Linked DNA regions of Homo sapiens. The protein of the gene in region 1 interacts with the protein of each later gene in a biochemical or structural test. Each region holds a gene or a part of one and is shown on either strand. Other genes may lie near its edges.

Evidence for each region. Proteins that work in one complex are often made in the same cells at the same time.
Region 2: the proteins of MDGA2 (region 1) and NTRK2 form a complex in vitro, tested with the Homo sapiens proteins (one study listed by BioGRID).

The regions. Positions count from the first base shown.
Region 1 is NC_000014.9:46,839,597-46,846,622, reverse strand, and holds the end of MDGA2 (MAM domain-containing glycosylphosphatidylinositol anchor protein 2), read left to right. Parts: intron 1-751; coding exon 752-857; intron 858-4,603; coding exon 4,604-4,692; 3' UTR 4,693-6,531; downstream 6,532-7,026. UniProt on the Homo sapiens protein: May be involved in cell-cell interactions.
Region 2 is NC_000009.12:85,015,703-85,022,728, forward strand, and holds part of NTRK2 (BDNF/NT-3 growth factors receptor isoform a precursor), read left to right. Parts: intron 1-4,503; coding exon 4,504-4,662; intron 4,663-5,549; coding exon 5,550-5,735; 3' UTR 5,736-7,026. UniProt on the Homo sapiens protein: Receptor tyrosine kinase involved in the development and the maturation of the central and the peripheral nervous systems through regulation of neuron survival, proliferation, migration, differentiation, and synapse formation and plasticity.

The sequences.
Region 1 (7,026 bases):
TCTATTGTCATTGTTTTAAGTATTTAATAATAAAGGATTCTGATTGTACTCATTTATTCTTTCAATATTCATGCACTGAGCCTCAGTGACCACCATTGTTATAGACACCATAAATTCAAAGGTATACCGTGAGATATTCAACATAAATAGACTGATACATATCTTCAAGTTTAAAAAAATGGAATATCAGCAGTGAAATCATGGAGGTAAATTATAAAGTCAACATGGGAATATGACGAACCTATTCAATCTATTTGTGAGAAATCAATGTCAGAGATAGAAACACTTTGTTCCGGGCTTCAATATACATATTACTGTTGTAAAGAATTCAGAATTGATTCATTCTTTAAAATATTTCTAGAAAACTAATGTTATGAGTTATGTTCAGATAAAACCAGAAAGAATCTATCTCAGAGAAAGACTTTTCAAATAAAACATTTTTTCTTATCCTTAAAAATTAAAAGAGGATGTGTAGTCATTTTTTTTAATTGTATTATTTAATTAAGTTTAGTTTTGCTTTAAAATCGACACAGAGCTTTTGATGTGAAAAACTAATACAATGCAAGGAAGATTCAATTACTGGTTTTGGGATGAAAGTTTATGTTTTCTGCAAGTTTTAATTTTGAAAGCCATCAAATATAAAAGATGCCAGGATTACTGACAAGTTTATTTTTGTCACCTTGATTTCTCAAGAGAAACTGATCTGCAAATCAAAGCTCCACATTTAGGTTTGTTTCATTCATATTTGTAGCTCATTTTTGAAGGTATCCGAGGTCCTGGAATAGAAGGTGACATTGCTATTGATGATGTATCAATTGCAGAAGGAGAATGTGCAAAACAAGACCTAGCAACTAAGAGTAAGTATCTTTGCTTGAGATTGGTTTGTTGTAACGTTAAAGTAACATTACTATTAAATTAACATTTAATTTAATTAATTTTAAAAACGGAGTTATTTTTAGTTGGTTTATTTAGAAATTTCTTATATGTAATACCCTAAAGTTTGTTCAGTTATTTTTAAAGTATTAAATTCAATTGTAGACATATTTGGCCTAAGATAAAATAGAAGTGAGATTTTGATTTAGATCTACGTAAGGCAAGTACACTTTGATTTTTAATTAAGATTTTAAAACACTTTGATATTATTTGTTTTAGAAGATTTAAAAACTTGTATTAAAATATTTGATGAACCTATATACATAGCACATATTTACAATGTAAATTGTATTAGTCAATCTTCATACTGCTATAAAGAACTGCCCAACACTGGGTAATTTATAAAAGAAAGAGATTTAATTGACTCACAGTTCAGCAAGGCTGGGAGGCCTAAGGAAACTCACAATCATGGCGGAAGGTGAAGGGGAAGCAGAGTACCTTCTTCACAAGGCAGCAAGGAGAATTGCTGAGAGAAGGGGGAAGTGCCCCTTATAAAATCATCAGATCGGCCGGGCGCGGTGGCTCACGCCTGTAATCCCAGCACTTTGGGAGGCCGAGGCGGGTGGATCACAAGGTCAGGAGATCAAGACCATCCTGGCTAAGACGGTGAAACCCCGTCTCTATTTAAAAATACAAAGAAAAAATATTAGCCGGGCGTGTAGTCCCTGTAGTCCCAGCTACTCGGGAGGCCGAGGCAGGAGATTGGCGTGAACGCGGGAGGCGGAGCTTGCAGTGAGCCAAGATCACGCCACTGCACTCCAGCCTGGGCGACAGAGCAAGAGTCTGTCTCAAAAACATAATAATAATAATAATAATAAAAATCATCAGATCTAGTGAAAACTCACTTTCATGAGAAGAGCATAGGGGAAGAGCCCCCATGATTCAGTTACCTCCACCTGGTCTCTCACTTGAAACATGGGGATTATGCGGATTATATTTCAAGATGAGATTTGGTCTCTCCCTTGAAACATGGGGATTATGCAGATTATATTTCAAGATGAGACTTGTGTGAGGACACAAAGCCTTACCATGTCAGCATAGATGCTTTCATTCGTCCAGTTTGTGAATATAGTGAATATATTTCCTGATTTAGCCAATTTTTTTTTTTGAGACGGAGTTTTGCTCTTGTTGCCCAGGCTGGAGTGCAACAGTGCAATCTCTGCTCACTGCAATCTCCGCCTCCCGGGTTCAAGTGATTCTCTTGCCTCAGCCTCCTGAGTAGCTGGGATTACAGACTCGCGGCACCACACCCCGCTAATTTTTTGTATTTTTAGTAGAGACGCGGTTTCACCATGTTGGCCAGGCTGGTCTCGAACTCCCGACCTCAGGTGGTCCACCTGCCTCGGCCTCCCAAACTGCTGGGATTACAGGCGTGAGCCACTGTGCCTGGCCTTTTGCCAGCCATTTTAACAGATTCAGCATTGTAAAGAGCCTAAATACATATATTAAGTAATGAAGTAGACCTCATATTTATGGTCTAATCTCCTATCTGCACCACAAGCTTGTTTAATAATTTGATTTTCACTTTATACCCTTTTTTGAGTATTATGGTTTAATGATATATTTAATTTTATTTTTTTGTCACAGGTCCATTTTATAATAGAAGAGATATAAATAAAACATGATGAATAATGCACAAAGATTTAGAATTATGTATTTAGCTGCTTCTTAAAGTCCTCATCTCCATATTTCACATTCGAAGCTATGAAATCTAAAATCATTCCTGTTAAAAATGACTGCAATTGAAGGATTATCTTAGACTCATCTGGAATCTTTTATTTTGTGGTCATATATAGAGAAAGTAATCAAACTAAATTTACACAAATTACTCATCAATTATTTAGCACATACAAAAGCATGAAAATCTATGTTGTATAAATCTAGAGCAAATCAGAGTCTTTGGTAATTTTCTATATTTAGTGAGAAACTGTACCAGTCTAGATGTTGAAAGTTGAATGTGTACAATTGTCCACTGATTACTCATATGAACTGAATTGACTCAATTCTTAAGTATTGTCAAAAGACAAAAACTAAGATTTTTATATAACAATGAGCCATTTTGCTCATTGTTATATAAAATGAAAATATATTAAAAAGTCATAAACTTAGTATTTCAAGTAACATATTTAGTAAAAATGTATCCTTGTGTCTGTCTAGTTCTGCTTTAGAAAACCAGTAGCTATACTCAAAAGAACAGTTTTTCTAATGCACAGGAAAACATGTATTCTCCTCAAAGGAGAATAGGATTTCTTTTGAATTTCATAGTATGACTGAGTGGCAGTAACATTTTATTAATTGAAGGCAGTTACAACTATATACAGAAATTTTACATTTTCATAATGTAAGCACAAATATTATAAATAAATTCAATAAATTGAATTAAACTTTTCAAAGGAAGAAAGCAAAGGAAATTATTTACTCCCTAGTGCAGAAAGAAAGCATAACTGATAAAACTAGCCACAGTAAATGCCTGTGAAAGCCCATAGGGACTTCATTACTGTACAAGTTCTATTACAATAGAACATTTTTATAATTAGTTTTTTTTTTCTCTTAAACTAGCAAATCCAAGAAATGTGTGGCAGTTTTAAATATGAAAACACCCCCTGTATGTATTGGGTGTATTTATATTTAAACTCTATAAATTAGGGGAAATAAATAATCTTAATTGAACACAAATAATCTATTTGGCATCAGAAAGTTTTCTGTTACATTTGTGTCATTTAATTACCATTTATTAAGTTCATTTTATGACTAGCATTTGATTGATTGATGATTATTAAATGAATATTATATTCTAAGTACAGACCAGCCTGAAGGCTGAAAGCCTCTTCCTGATTCCTCAGGCTGCCAGTTCTTTCCAGGCAATAAATGGAACTATGGTCCACACCATGCAGATATAAGATTGTATGTCTCAATTTTCAAACTCAATTCTCCCCTAGATACAAGCCACTTTGCAACTTTAGCTAGTTTAATGAATTATATCTGTGTTATCCCTCCACAGTAAGGCATGCATTCTAAGAGGCATCAACTGGACACCAGGTTTTAACAGAAATCCCAATTACAGTAGGACTTTCCAGGCCGATTGGTGGAAGGGATTTTTTAGTTTGAATGGACTTCATCATGCCTCTAAAAGTTAAAATAAAGAGAAAATTATTTGTATAATTTATAGATAATGGACCGATCTAAACATGGATCATCTACTAGTTGCAATAGTTAATTTCTGTACACATAACCATCCCTTTCTAGTTTTCATTAAGATAGATTTTCTTTCAGTCTTCAAGCTTATCCACTTCGGGAAGCTTGAAAAAAAATCTACTTTTTGAAGTATTCTGATAATTTTCTCCATGTTCCTGCTTTCCTGTGGCTAGCAGAACTCTTAAGATTGAGCTCAACCACAAACCTATGTGAATATGTTATGAACAAGTTTTCATAGCATATTATATCAATTCAAAATCTGTAAATCTTTTTATCAAGTGCCTTAACCATATATTCATTTTCCTTTTCACTTCCCTTAGCAATGAAGCTGATAAATAAAACAAAATAAAAATAAATATTTTCCAGAAATATTTTCCATATACTTGTTTTATTATTCACCAAGGTTGTGTTAGTAGCTACGTGGAATGCTTATTATTCTTCTTTTTTTGTTTGCATTTATTTTCCTTATCTTTAGATTCCGTTGATGGTGCTGTTGGGATTTTGGTTCATATATGGCTTTTTCCCATTATCGTCCTCATCTCTATCTTAAGTCCTCGAAGGTGACCTTATCCTGGCAGAGGCTATAAAAGATTCACCAGGCACTGGCATGAAGAAAGAGTCTTTGTAAATGGACATTGAACAAACAAACTACCAAAGATTCCTCCACTGACTACTGACTCAAAAATAAAATAATAAAAACAAATTTTTTTAAGCACTGGGGATAAAAAGACATCATGGAAGTATAACTTATTCCAGACTAAACATAAAAGATAATCTTGACCTGAGTAGAGAAGAGACCTTCAGGTGCTTTTGTGGCTAAAAAGATTACAGCGTCATCTGGTTGAACTCTGGAAAAAAAAAAAAAAATGAAAAAAAGAAAAAAAAAAGAGCTATAGAAATCCTTGTCAAAGCACAAAGTCATGGCTGGTTTTGTTTCAAATGAATAGTTTGCTTGTTACCATGGAAACCTAATGGCCTGCCAACAAAAACCTCACTGTAAACAGGGTACGTGAAGAGCTGGCATTTATTTTCCTTACGAGAAGGTTTTCGTAGAGAATTAAATAAATGTAGGCCCTTTTACCTTTGGCTGTTACCCTTCCTTGAAAATAACCCGAACTCAGAATTATTTAAAGCATTCATGTTTCTCCCCACCTTATCCCCATCCCACCTTTATTATTATTATTTTTCTCCCATGGCTAAGCTAGATAACTGTATGCTGTCTCTTTTTGCATGCACTACTATCCAGGATGGTAAACCTGGGCTTACATGTTACACAGGCTTATCGGAGTTTGCTTGCGGCCACTTGAACACCCAAACTACGTCATCTGTTCCAATGAAGAAACCAAACCACCATCTTTTATAAATTGCCATGGAAACCAAGTGCCTTCAATGAAACAAGCCTGAATAATTTTCAACTCAGAAGCTTGCACTGCTAAGAGTGGTTTGTGTAAAACTATTTTATAAACAAACTACAGAGCCTAAATGTGCAAATTACAGGCAAGACAACAAAGCCGCTTCTGAAGAAGAAAGGACCGAAGCTGCTGCGTAAGCCCATGCAGACAAGATATTTGTTGTTTAACCTCCTAGACAGCCATGGCCTTTCGGCTTATTGTCCATTAGAAAATCACTTCCATTGAGACCAGACATGGAGCAACACTTTTTTTCTTCCAGGTTATTAAATGGGTCAACCAGAGCAAAAGGTTATTAAGAATACTTAGTGCAGAAGGTGGTAAAACACAAAAGTGATTTTTTTACTCTAACCTCCATTTGAAATGAAATTGGCCCTAGCTTTAGAGGGAACAAGAAAATGTTTGGGATTGCAGTGCATACTAACTCTACAGTGGAACTGGGCCTGAAAAATCTGGCTTTATTCTAAACTCTGAGGGTAATATGCCTCTGCCCTTTAGTCAGACTCTGTGCAAATTGTGAAATATTATTTTATTATTTTACCAAGATTATAAAAACACTTTTACAAAAAAACAAAAACCTGTAAAAATAATTTTGAGCTACCTGACGACAAATCATATCTTTAACCAGCCAGTTTTCCAATGCATTGTAAATTTCACTTAAACCTGTTGGTTATGAAAATTTGAAGATCATTTTCCTTAAATTATCTCAGCTTTTAACTTCATTTAAAAAGACTTTTGTCTAAGAAGAATATTATTATTATATGTTCTTTCAACACCCCAGGATTAAAAAAACTGATTATGCAAGCAATTGGAATATAAGTATTAAATTATAGCATTTGCAAATATTAATATAAAAGCACAACAAAATGTAGTGGAAAATGACAAAGCTTGTTTTTTAAAACAATTCTGTAGAAATGTTTGTGCAAATTCAGTAATTCAACTTAAAATATAATTTTACAGCTATGTTCAATAAAGCCTCTTTCCAGGTAAGGTATGACAAGCAGTATGTGTGTTTGTTGAGCAATGTTCACTTATCACTAAAATGAAATTAGTTATACAATTTATTGGTTACCATGGGATAAATCTTCAGTGCTCCACATACCTTAATGTCTGCAGAAAGAAATTTTAATAGGAACTCCCTGATGCACTCCCCTATATTGTAATACATGCAGAAAGCAGTTAAACCTTTGAAGGTAAAATATGAAACATATATGAACCTGGAATTTAATGTCTATTTTCAGTCAGTTCAAAAGGGGACCAGTTTGAATATTTAGGTAGTGATGGAATTGATCTGAACCAAGTCCTTTAAATTAAACATAATAAACAAATGAGTTTCATAACTTATTTGAATGAATTAGACATCTTAAAATTTTTTCAGAGTTTCACAGTAACCCATATACTTTATCAGACCAAAGAGATTCAAGTACACAATATCTGGGGCATTTCTTTTACGTTTTACAAAATTTCTCTTCACCTTGACTTCCATTTT
Region 2 (7,026 bases), on another chromosome or scaffold:
TGCAGCAGGAAGGGAGAGTTTTTTCTTGAAGTGGTGGGACTTGAGCTTGCCTTCATAAAGGAGACCTTTGGGAAGTAGGGAGAAAGGGAAGAAGATCAAACTTTCTAAGAGGCATGAGTAACTTGGCCCTGGGTAGGAAGCCACCTAAGCTTGCTGGCTGAACACAGAGTGTGTGTGGAGACTGGAGAAAGCAGAAAAGCAGAGTGGTCCATCCTAATGAATACAGGATGTCCAATGGGGAAAGGTTTGGTATGTGGCTTTAGGTAAACTACTTAAACTGACTGACTTTTAGGGGCATTACTTGCACTATCCAGGCAAGTCCATGTCTGCTGTAGAGCATAACTGTTGGGTTCAAGTGAGATAATTGAATAGAAATTCTTCGTAAATGTTGAAGACTGAGTGTTGATGGATGATTACGGTGGCACTGAGGTGGTGGGTGATTCCGGAACCACGGCGTTTTTGTGCTGGAAGTAACCAAGGGCTGCCCTAACTCTTCACATTTTACCAATAAAGACAGAAGCCAGACCTGAGGGTACCTGCTCAAGCTGGTTAATAGCAGCAGCACAAGAACTAGAACTCCAGTCTCTTGGGTTGAGGAAAATAAAAATTGCAAGTCCAAGTCAACTCTCCAGATAACTGGGTTTCTCATCTTGCACCAGGTCAACCTGGTGAGTTTAGTGAAGACCATGAGACCCCATTCAACTTAATTACTGGAGAGCCCCTGAGGCCCCACAGCATATCAGGCTGAGAGCAGGAATTCTGACTCTCAGTGTCATTCCTGGGATCACATTCCATCTCACAAATATTTAAGCAAGGGCATGAGGGCAAGTTGCCAAGTAGTACGATACAAAACAAATGTCTCATTGTGTTTGTTGCTGCACAGTGTGTTGTTTGTGTGGTCCAAAAACCATCAAGTGACTATAACTAGAATGTGACAGTAATTTGTAACAACAGTGACTTTTTTGGGGGGAGGGTCTACTTTTGTGACATGCTTCAAAATTCTGAGAAAGGGTTGCAAAAGAAATGTTCAGAAATGTACTAAATGGGCTTAGAAAACTTGTGAACCCTGTCTGAACTTTTATTAGATTGTCCCACCACTCACCCATTTGACATCTGAACAAGGAAAGCATTATTTATAACAGCATGCGTGAAATCCCAGAAGGGATTCTTGAAAGAATTAGAGTGAAAAATCTGCCCCAAAGAGACAGCAAGCAGAAAATAAATGATCAGATGAGAAAACATGTAAATCAAAACGTGAATCTTTTGTTCTCTCTCTCTTCTTTAAAGGAAACAGAAGCTTTTTCTTGGCTATTAGCAATTCAGGATAGAGAACCAGTATCAGGTTTTCTATCTTGCATTGCTAATGACCAAAAAAAGTGGGTGCTGCTATCAAAGGAGCCACTTGGTTAAGGCCAAATGAAGAGTTCAGGAGAGTGACATATGATGATTCTTCTTAATGTCTCCAGAATGGCTGCTTCTGGAGTAAGTAAGAGAGTGAAGGTTCCAGAGAAGAAAGCCACACCTCAAAAGCATTAATACTTTAAGACTTAGAAAACACTTTCACAAATGCCTGCTTGAGTAAATACCTCCCAACAACATTAGGAGGTATACATTATTACTTACATATAATTATTAAACCTTGGCCACAGAGAGATTTGGCAACTAGTCCAGGTTACCCCAGTAGGAAACAGGTAAGTGAGCGATTGGAAACCAGCTATTGTCATCCACTGCATTGCAGCTGTGAATATCCAGGTAGATATGGAAATCCTGAGATCTTGCTAGATTAACACACCTCAAAGTGTATTTTTAGCTGTCTTACCTGAGACATATATAAATGGTTATCTCTCCCACAAACATACATTCAAATAGTTTAATTTACCAAAGTTAAGTTTGTTCTTTCCTGCCAAACTCCTCACATACTTTAATAAGCCTCAGTCCCTGATGGATCTCCTTGAATTGAAGAGGGTTGCAATTTACAGTACATTTGACATATTTGATCTAGGAACTTCTGGGGTTGTTAAAATAACACAACTCAGACAGCATAACAAGAAGACCAGGTCCCAGTCTTTATTTTAAGATTCCTACTTCTCTAAGCCCACTTTGACCACTGGGGTTCTATTTTATCTAACGAGAAAGAACAGCAACACCAAAATGCACAGTGGAGCTGGTTGCACCATAGCACTATGCTGACATGAACAATGATGAAATGAGCTCTTCTTTATAGGGTAGGAAGAAGGTTAAAATGAGAGAGGTAAGGTTAAAAATAAGATGTATAGCAGAAGGGATTATTTTTCCCTTTGATTTCATCTTACCCATTTTTTTTTGCATGTTAGGTAAGCAAAACAATGCCATGTTTGTATCTTAAGAGGTTCCCATAAAATGCTTGCTGTGTGGATGAAAATGGTCTGTTAAAATGTGTAGACCTCTGTCCTATCTGCACCACCCAGGCAAGGTCACATAATTGCCAGGAGCAATTTCATCATCTGTAGGCTAGAGGTGCCACCAAGAGTCCTGAGTTCTTTATGGTTTGCTCACACAATTAAATGACACCAGACGTGTATAGATGTTTTCTAAACCATATGGTACATTCCAATTATGGCTTCAGAGAATGGCAAGGAGACTAGAGATGCTTTATTCTAGGGGTTAACAATCTTTGAAAATGTGTGTGCCAAAGTGCCCAGCCTTTTCTGGCACATAAACAGAAGGGTCATTTGCCCACCTCTGCAAGGTGGCAGCAGCATCCCTGCATGGCCCAAAGCAGTCCTCTCCTTGGCATTGCCATGTGGGCTGCCCAGACCTGGTGAGATCATTCTACCCTCATACCGCAAGTCCTCCAAAGCATCTGGAAACAACAGGTCCTCTGTGTATGTCAGCAGATTCCCTCTCCCAAAGTCCTGGGCACCTGGGGGTCACAGAGTTATAAACAGGGCAGATATTTGCCAAACCAGAAATGTGCTGAAATAGCTGCACCCATATTTACTACCCACATCCTTTCTGGTTGGTCAGTGTCTGTGCCACACTGATTGCAGTTTGAGTATCGACCCTGAGGGTGACTGTTGCCACCACCTTCAGACATCAAGTAAGACCATAAGAGAAGTCTCTGTCCATTGAACACTGATGACCTGTCACTGCTGAAGGAAGAGTGAGGAAATCTAAGGCCAATGGAAGCCAACTTAGCCTTTATGAGCTTTTTGTTTATTAAAAACTGAATAGTAGAGATGGGTCACCTGAGCCAGAAGTTTTTGTCCCTATTTGTCAAATTTGGATGCATCATACAGAGAAGAATGAAATAAAATATCCTCCCCCTTTTGTACTCTTGTGCTTTCTTTGGTGCTAAGAACATCACTGGGAATCACCAAGCATGTTAGACATCTCTGACATTTCAGCCTCTTGGGTTCTGGGGTAGGGGAACATTTTCCAGACACTATTAGTTTATTTTCTTCCTTTAATAAATACTAACTGGATATTGAGATTAGAATTGGGCAGAAACTCTATGCACCATTACTCTATAAACTCAGGACCCAGAGTTGTTAGAGAGGTCCAATTTTCTGCTGTAGGATAAGCCCACCTGCTCTCAGCTGTCAGGCATACTGTGTAGCATGGTGGTGCTGGGGGGTTACCAGGATGAAAAGCAGAACCTACCGCCACAGGACTACTGTGCAGAAATCTGTTCATGGGTTTGAAATCGGGCATCCCTGACAAACCTGGAAATGAGCTTCCTAACTTTCCTCCATGAAGTAGGAAGTCATATACAATTTTACTTTGTCAAAGAAAGTTTTCTTTGCCTGTACTAATGCGATTGCTATCTGATGCCCCAGTCTCAGTGTTTTCATTAAAATGGGCATTTAAAAAATGTATTTATCTATTGTGGTAAATAATCTAAGGAGCAGTGCCCTGTAATAGAGGAAAGTCCTGAGCTTAGAATCCAAAGACCTGAGTTTTGTTTCTGTAAGCAATCTGAATCTTATTGCCTTATTTGTAGAATGAGAATAATGATGCCTGACCTGCCCATCGCTGAGTGATGGTGGAGGGGTTTGAATCAGCATCATGCACACATAAGACCTGAAAGCAGAAGGAGACTCTGGCCTTGCCAAGGAAGTAGAGTCACTGGTTGGTCATTTTGGATGCAGAGTACCTCTTTGTTCTCCTGGTCAAAGTGATCTTGTTAATTAGAAGATTGAGTCATCCTCTTAGCAGAAAGTGTGTGTATGTGTGTGTAGTTTTATTTATCCAAGGTGATCATCTACCTAATCATCATCCCTGCTCCTATCTGGTTTTGAGAGAAAGAATTGCAGATAATATTTTTTTAAATGATTTTGATCACTCTTTGCCTTCTGTCTCTGTTGCTTGAGACTGTGAAGAAGTCATATATCCTTTATGTGTTTATAAACAATTAAAACTATAAAGTGCAAATAAGGAAAGCAAACAGTGTCCCCCAGCAGCTCCCTTCCACACCTGGTTTCGGGGTGACTGATGCCTCCCTGTTGATCCCTTTCTCCCCAGGTCGGTGGCCACACAATGCTGCCCATTCGCTGGATGCCTCCAGAGAGCATCATGTACAGGAAATTCACGACGGAAAGCGACGTCTGGAGCCTGGGGGTCGTGTTGTGGGAGATTTTCACCTATGGCAAACAGCCCTGGTACCAGCTGTCAAACAATGAGGTGTGCAATGGGTCTGGCCAAGACCCTCCAGAGGGCTGAGATCCCAGAGGCATCCATTGGCTGGGGCCTTGTTTTGGGTTGGAAGACCATGTCAGGACACGATCTTATGGGCTTTGTTGGTGGCAGCACTTCCCAAGTAGCCTGCTATGTTTCTAAATTTCATGGTCAAAGTATAATCACTCTGAGAAAGCAAAGCACAGTGCTCGCTGCTATGTCCTTGCTCCTCTGGTGATGGGACTGAGGAGTCACTTTATGCAGCTCATCTGATAAATTAATAGCAGACGTAGCATTCCAGAATCCATACAGTCCAGCAAGTTCTTTAGTATTGTTCCAATGAAGTTTCAAGATTCTTTCCTTTTTGAATATTTCACCAGAACATTAACTTCTAGTGAAAAACTCAAGCATTTTGTTTTTTCTATTCTTACGCTTGCAAATATTGTTTATATTTGAGGCACAGCATCTTGATCAGGCACCGTACATCTTTTTCAGATCCATTTCTATCTTTTTAATCCAGTTCCTTTATCCAATAGCCTGAGAGGTTTCCTGTCAGTCAGTGCCTTAACACCCAGGTGACTCAGGTTCCATCTCAGACCAATAAAAACCACAACATGTGGGAGCTCCAGTGTGAGGTTTGGGACCATTCCATATAAATTATTTTTCCACCAGTTTTGTGAAATCAGAGTGGCTTGGACAAATGGATATAAGCCAATCAAAATAAACACGATATAAACTAACCTATAATAATTGCTCTCTTCCTTCTGAGAAAACAAAACCAAGAGTGGGCTTCTTTTGTAAAAGCCCTCTCTTCTGCTGTTTTTTTGCACTGACATTTCTTCGATGTGCATTGCTTTTCCTCCTGTCTCATCCTATCTTTGATCTCCATCCAGGTGATAGAGTGTATCACTCAGGGCCGAGTCCTGCAGCGACCCCGCACGTGCCCCCAGGAGGTGTATGAGCTGATGCTGGGGTGCTGGCAGCGAGAGCCCCACATGAGGAAGAACATCAAGGGCATCCATACCCTCCTTCAGAACTTGGCCAAGGCATCTCCGGTCTACCTGGACATTCTAGGCTAGGGCCCTTTTCCCCAGACCGATCCTTCCCAACGTACTCCTCAGACGGGCTGAGAGGATGAACATCTTTTAACTGCCGCTGGAGGCCACCAAGCTGCTCTCCTTCACTCTGACAGTATTAACATCAAAGACTCCGAGAAGCTCTCGAGGGAAGCAGTGTGTACTTCTTCATCCATAGACACAGTATTGACTTCTTTTTGGCATTATCTCTTTCTCTCTTTCCATCTCCCTTGGTTGTTCCTTTTTCTTTTTTTAAATTTTCTTTTTCTTTTTTTTTTCGTCTTCCCTGCTTCACGATTCTTACCCTTTCTTTTGAATCAATCTGGCTTCTGCATTACTATTAACTCTGCATAGACAAAGGCCTTAACAAACGTAATTTGTTATATCAGCAGACACTCCAGTTTGCCCACCACAACTAACAATGCCTTGTTGTATTCCTGCCTTTGATGTGGATGAAAAAAAGGGAAAACAAATATTTCACTTAAACTTTGTCACTTCTGCTGTACAGATATCGAGAGTTTCTATGGATTCACTTCTATTTATTTATTATTATTACTGTTCTTATTGTTTTTGGATGGCTTAAGCCTGTGTATAAAAAAGAAAACTTGTGTTCAATCTGTGAAGCCTTTATCTATGGGAGATTAAAACCAGAGAGAAAGAAGATTTATTATGAACCGCAATATGGGAGGAACAAAGACAACCACTGGGATCAGCTGGTGTCAGTCCCTACTTAGGAAATACTCAGCAACTGTTAGCTGGGAAGAATGTATTCGGCACCTTCCCCTGAGGACCTTTCTGAGGAGTAAAAAGACTACTGGCCTCTGTGCCATGGATGATTCTTTTCCCATCACCAGAAATGATAGCGTGCAGTAGAGAGCAAAGATGGCTTCCGTGAGACACAAGATGGCGCATAGTGTGCTCGGACACAGTTTTGTCTTCGTAGGTTGTGATGATAGCACTGGTTTGTTTCTCAAGCGCTATCCACAGAACCTTTGTCAACTTCAGTTGAAAAGAGGTGGATTCATGTCCAGAGCTCATTTCGGGGTCAGGTGGGAAAGCCAAGAACTTGGAAAAGATAAGACAAGCTATAAATTCGGAGGCAAGTTTCTTTTACAATGAACTTTTCAGATCTCACTTCCCTCCGACCCCTAACTTCCATGCCCACCCGTCCTTTTAACTGTGCAAGCAAAATTGTGCATGGTCTTCGTCGATTAATACCTTGTGTGCAGACACTACTGCTCCAGACGTCGTTTCCCTGATAGGTAGAGCAGATCCATAAAAAGGTATGACTTAT